Regions from separate parts of the Homo sapiens genome. Here region 1 is linked to region 2. Evidence: fine-mapped expression QTL. A gene starts in region 2. The other region holds a variant in brackets. All regions are shown on one strand. Distances are from middle to middle.

What was found. PIP is the estimated chance that this variant, and not a neighbour inherited with it, causes the effect.
Region 1: its variant is fine-mapped to the expression of PELI1 in whole blood (INTERVAL, PIP above 0.99).

What each region holds. Positions count from the first base shown.
Region 1 is chr2:64,272,739-64,275,652 of GRCh38, forward strand. No RefSeq gene overlaps it. Among named protein-coding and RNA genes, the nearest start is that of MIR4433A, 67 kb to the right of the region's middle. The variant G/T (reference allele first, on the strand shown) is at 1,143.
Region 2 is chr2:64,142,765-64,145,678 of GRCh38, forward strand. It overlaps PELI1 (pellino E3 ubiquitin protein ligase 1), which reads right to left and starts at 1,656. Exons shown (of 7, transcript NM_020651.4): 1 at 1,317-1,656. RefSeq lists silencers at 1,104-1,173, 1,184-1,253, 1,394-1,463, 1,544-1,733, 1,824-1,883.

The DNA.
Region 1 (2,914 bases), 130 kb after region 2:
TCTGAGCTCAGGCAATCCGCCCACCTCGGCCTCCCAAGGTGCTAGGATTACAGACGTGAGCCACCGAGCCCGGCCGACTTGTTTTTAAATCAATTACCAAATTCCCACTGCTATCTAAAATGACACAGCCACTGCTATCTATTGGGTCCTAGCCCAAAAGACTGTACCCAAGAGACTCTGCCACTCACACAGGAGAATGTAATCTTTAACTAATTAGGTTAGGATGCACAAAAAAGTGTGGGAGGCTGGACGCTAATATAGCTTAGACTTGAGGAAATGCCAGGGTGATGGGTAACTTGCTCCATGTGTTACTTGCAGGCTTCAGACCTGCCAGATGTGCATCTCATAGGCATTTCAAATCACACCATCACCTGCCCCTGCAAAGCTGTTTTGCTCTCTTACCCTCTCTCCTGCCCTGCTGTCTCTCTCTCTCTCTCTCTCTCTCTCTCACACACACACACCCCTTAGTGTTGTGCTTTCTTTTGTTAACTCTTTTAATCAGACTTTGATTTTCTAGATCTGTATGTTTCAATTAAATCCTAGTCTCTTTTGGACATTGAACTTGCAGAAGTTTTTTCCTGTATCTTCAGTTCTTGGTTCTTCTGATAAGTGCCTAAGGAGAAACAAATAAACAAACATGAACAAAGAGATAAACAGCAAAAACCACTCCCGGAGGCCTTCACATGGAACCCATTCATTATGTAACAACAAAAGGCCCCAAACAACTGCAGACCAGCATGACATATCGATGACTTATTCTTTTTAATATTAATGACAGTCTGAAGGAAGTTGTGGTGACAAGTCAGGGATTAATACTGCTATCTCTTTATGAATATCTGATCTATTAACACCACTGGGCTTAATGGGATTCATGAGTCTCAGTCACTGTCATGTCATTGCCCATATTGTGCAATCAGAGATCAGTTTTGCAATGGCTGATAAAAACAAAGGCCCAGAACCAAGGAGTTCCAGCAGAGAGGAAGGAAATGAAGCTTCCTGCTGGCTGAAGCTGCTCACCCAAAAGAAAGGGAATTAGATAAAGTGAAAGGTATTTCTCAGAGATGGGCCCAAAGCTGCTTCTGTTTCCTTGTGGCCTCAGGCTGGCTCTAGCTAGTAGGACACCATGACCCAGAGTAACTAAA[G/T]GGAATTATTGGCATCCTCCCACGAGCTCCTACCAGGCCAGTGCCAGAAACACTCATCTACTCCCTTATGGAAGATCACTGAGTCATGAGATCTGTGGTTTGTCTGATTCTCCACTTCCCGAAGCCAGCCAAGGCTAACCGACCTGGGATTCTGAGAGACTGTCCAGGTGAGCTCGGGTGCTTCAGTAGCAACTGGCCTTCTGGGTGTGCCCCAGAGCAATTCTGAGTCCAGAGATCGTTTCTGGCACCACCCTCAGCTCTCTCAGGGTTCTGGGAACCCAGTGATCAGAGGCTGGCTGGCTGTGAGATGTTCTTTCTCTTACCCTGTGGTGGGCTCCACATTGCAGTCACTTCATGCCTGCTGCTAAAAACCTAGGCCAGGCTTATTACCTTTCATCCAGACCAGAACTGAAAGCAGTTTCCATCTCCTGGGCCAATTCCAACTAATTGGTAGTGGCTGCCCGAGCACTGTGTAGAGAAAGATTTTGAGTTCAGCAGCAGAGTGTGGTTGTCCATTGGTGACGATTGCCAGAGGCACAGGTGGGTCACTGCAACTTGCATTCTGTGTGTTTACTAATTCTGATCTGGACCATTACATCAGCCTGCTAAGTGGTGCACTTACCTCTATTTCCTTCCAGAAAAAAAGATTAATCTTCCAGAAGCATTCTTTGATAAGAGCCTTATCAAAAAAAATTTCAACTCCACTCCACTTTAGCAACTCAGACCTGTTCTACATTTGTGATCAATCCTTCTCTCTCTCTCTAGCATATATATACACACATATGTAATTATATATACACATACAATTCTATATAATTATATATGTATGTATATGTATACATGTGTGTGTCTTCTGTGACTCTTGCCAGCAACCTCAACCCACTTTCCCCTTCCTTTTGCTATGTCAGTCTTGCAAACCTTTCTCTGTGAATCAGTTTTCTCTGTGAATCATTTTCCCTCTTTCTTCCTACTCAAGGACTCCTGAAGGAGGCTAGAGGAATACACACTCTTGTGGTTTGGGTTCTACACAACCTGGGGCCTCTGACCTCGGCTGGGTTCTTAGCACAGTGACCCCTCACAGGCCCCTGGTCAGCATCCTTTCCTCCTGTTCTGTTTCTCTCTCATCTTAAACCCTCACTGCTGTGTTGCTGTCCCCTCCCCAACCATGACCACCTTTCTCTTGGCAGACCACCAAGGCTCCTGTCTTAGTCATAGTCTATATTTTATCATAGAATTATAGAATTCTGTAGTCATGCAGGTGCATGGCTACACCATGCCTGGCTAATTTTATGTAGTTTTAGTAGAGATGGGGTTTTGCCATGTTGGCAAATTCTATAATTCTATAATAAATTGTAGAATTTATTCTATAATAATAATTTATATTTATTAATTAAATATTTATAATAATTATAATTCTATAATAAATTCTATAATTTATTATAGAATTATGGTGTTCTATAATAAAACACCATAGACTGGGTAGCTTAAAAACAGACATTTATTTCTCACAGTTCTGGAAGCTGGGAAGTTCAAGATCAAGGTGCCAGCAGATTTGATTCCTAGTGAGGACCCATTCCTGCTTGCAGATGGCCTTCTTCTCACTGTGTCCTCACCTGGCAGAGCAAGAGAGGGCTCTGGTTTCTTCTTCTTATAAGGGCACCAATCTCCTTATGAGGGCTCCACCCTGATGACCTCCCAAAGGCTCCACCTTGCAATGTCTCACACTGTGGATTAATTAAGGCTTCAGCATAAGAATTTTGGTAGTTGGGCTG
Region 2 (2,914 bases):
CCTATTATGAAAACTTAATAATAAATTCATTTATCCTTAAGTGTAAGAGTAATACATATTCGACACAGTAAAGGACAATGCCATTTCTGAAACAAAAGATCATGTGCAATGAAAACAAAGTAACATTTTGCAGAGTAAGAAAAAGTAAAGAGCCTGTGAACCGAAACAGATGACCTTTTCTTATATATAAAGCTTCAGTTTTTAGCACAACCAGCACCTTATGAATAAAGTTCTCAATAACATTTGTTGATATACTGTTTGATGACTAAACGACAGGAATATTGTTGGTGCTGTTAAAACCAAGGCACATTTCCTTGTGTGTAGTGATTAAAATCTGTTAAATGTACATTTTTAAAAAACCTCTGCCCTCTGTCCCCTTCTTGCTCTCTTGCCTCTAACAGACCTGCACGTACAAAAATAAAAGTAGATGGTGACGTGAGTTTATGATTTACATTAATTTCCCTACTCGGAGCATTTTTCACTAAGTCTTTAGAGGTTTTAAGATTCAAACACTATGTAAGAAGAATTATGGTTTGAACTACGTAACAATTACCTAGACATCTTTTGGACTTCAGTTAACCTGTAAGTAAAATGAGCATCTTTAACTTTTCCACGGGGCTTTGGAGAACGGGTTCTTCCTCATAAACGCTTTCATATACTCAGACACGAGGCGCGGTAGAAGATCAAGCGTATCCATCAATTTGAGAGCTTTTCACGACCTCAGTTTACCCACTTAGGGAAACGGGCGTATTAACTTGTTTCCTAGGGGACCCGGGGGTGAAATTAATTAGCGTGTTTAAAATGCTCTGAGATCCAAAGATGAAAGGAAATGTGAAAGACGCGCAGAGATGATGACAACAATCATAACAATAAAAAGAATGACTAACTTGAAGTCTGCGTTATGTAAGGGAGGAAAAGAAGTTATCAGATCCGCACAAACAAAAGGGAAACCCACCGCCCCTTTTGTTTCTCCCATTTCCCTCTCCTCCCCGCCACCCGCAGAGCTCCCCTCTCGCAGCCGGAGCGCGCGGCCAGCCAGGCGCGGGGCTCGGAGTTGGCCGCCGCGCGCCCCGCTCCCGGGCGGAGGGGGAGGCCGCGTAGGGCCGGTTCCTGACAAAGGCGCTTCCTCGAGCCAGGGCGCGGGATGCAGGCGCCGCAAACTCCGCTCCCCGCCGCAGCGGGGGCGCGCAGGCGGGCGGGGAGAGCCGGCTGCTGGCCGCCGGGGAAGCCGCCGAGGAAGTTGCGCGCCCGCCCTCCCCGCGCCCCTCGGCGGCCCCGCCGCCATCCATCCCGCGGCGCCCCGCGGTCACACTTACCGGACAATTGCTGGTGGCCGGGATCCCAGAGCGGCCCCCGAGACCCGAGGCGAGAGGGTGAAGTGTTGTGCGCGGGGAGCGCGAGCAGACAGCCCGCCGTTCCGCCGCTGCCCTCCGCGCCCGCCAGCCGAGCCCAGCGAGGGGAAGTTGACCACGGAGCCGAGCGCTGAGGAGCCGCGGACGCAGGGAGAGGCGTTGGGGCTGCTTTGTGGTGCGCTCCCGGAGGGCTGGGGACCAATTCGACCGCACCGCGGGACTAGGGCTGCTGCCGCTGCTGCTAGTGGAGGCGGCGGCGGCGCCCCCCGACGGTCCCTCCGCCTCACACCGCCTCTGGGTCACTGACATACACTCGCAAGGAGGGGAGGGGTCTAGCCGGGGGGCGGGGCCTGAGGGAGGGGACCGGGCAGGGCCACAGCGGAAGGCGGTGTCGCCGCACCGAGAAGGCTCTTGGGAATTGTAGTTCTCCGGTTGAAGAAAAAAGGGATTCATTGTTGTCCAGCACCCTACCAGGCTCGCTCTGCACTGAGCATGCTCGAGGGCGAGGTTTGGACCGCCCCCTCCCACCGTTACCATGGTCACCGACACACTTAGCGAACGTGTTCAGTGCTGCTGTTGGCTGAACAAGGACGGTCTTGTATTATGGTGTTGTTGGGGATCCAACCCTTAGACGGTCCTTCCTACTTTTCTCCACCTCCAACTCCTAGCCTTACCAGTCATAAGTACCCAGTGAGGTCTGACTTTCTCTCCATATTTCAGTCTTCCCTGCTGCGTAATTTATCTTCCACAAACCCTAAATCACAAATACCTCTGTCCCTCACTTCCCTCAATTGAATCTTCTCCGGCTAAATTCAATTTTCTTTACCTAAGACTTGTCGAAATGTAGTTGTTTCCAGTAATTGAACAATTAGGTTATAAAACTTAGGAATATCACCACTATCAAAGTCCCGTAATTAATTACTTTGCTCAGTTAGTCACATCTAACTTTAAGATTAGCAAAGGCAAAGTACAGAATTAAGACCCCTATATTTTACTTGATTACTATAAAAGAATCCGGGTTCGTTCATTTTAAGGCCTACAATTTTTAAGACATACAAATTTCATAAAGTATACGTTCAAAAGACAAGTTGAAAATTGTTTATGTGTATTGGCCAACTTTAGTTTGGTAATAAGAGAAGTCTGAACCAAGGTATGAGTATGTTGTTGGGCTGGTCAGCTAAGTCTACACCCATCTTGGGCACCCAGGTGTGGAAAGGTGGTAGGGAGGAGGGTGGAGAAAGGCAGGACACATTACTGGCTCTCCGGAGAGCTAAAGGCAACGCGTCCTGAGCGCTTTTGTTTTCCTTCTCCACCTACCTAGAACCCCACACCCTGGAAGAAAAAGATTAATGCTTAGGAATCAGACACACTTTTGGAGCAAGGCTTTCAGAGAGTCTCAAGATCAGAAATCCTTATATCTACAGACTATATAATTATACACTCATTCAAAAAATGCTTGTTGAGTGTCTACTTGTGCTAGGCACTGTTTTGAGCCCCAGAAATAGAGATACAAAAATGTAAAAGAAACATTCTTATTTTCAGAGTGCTTACTATGCAAAGGA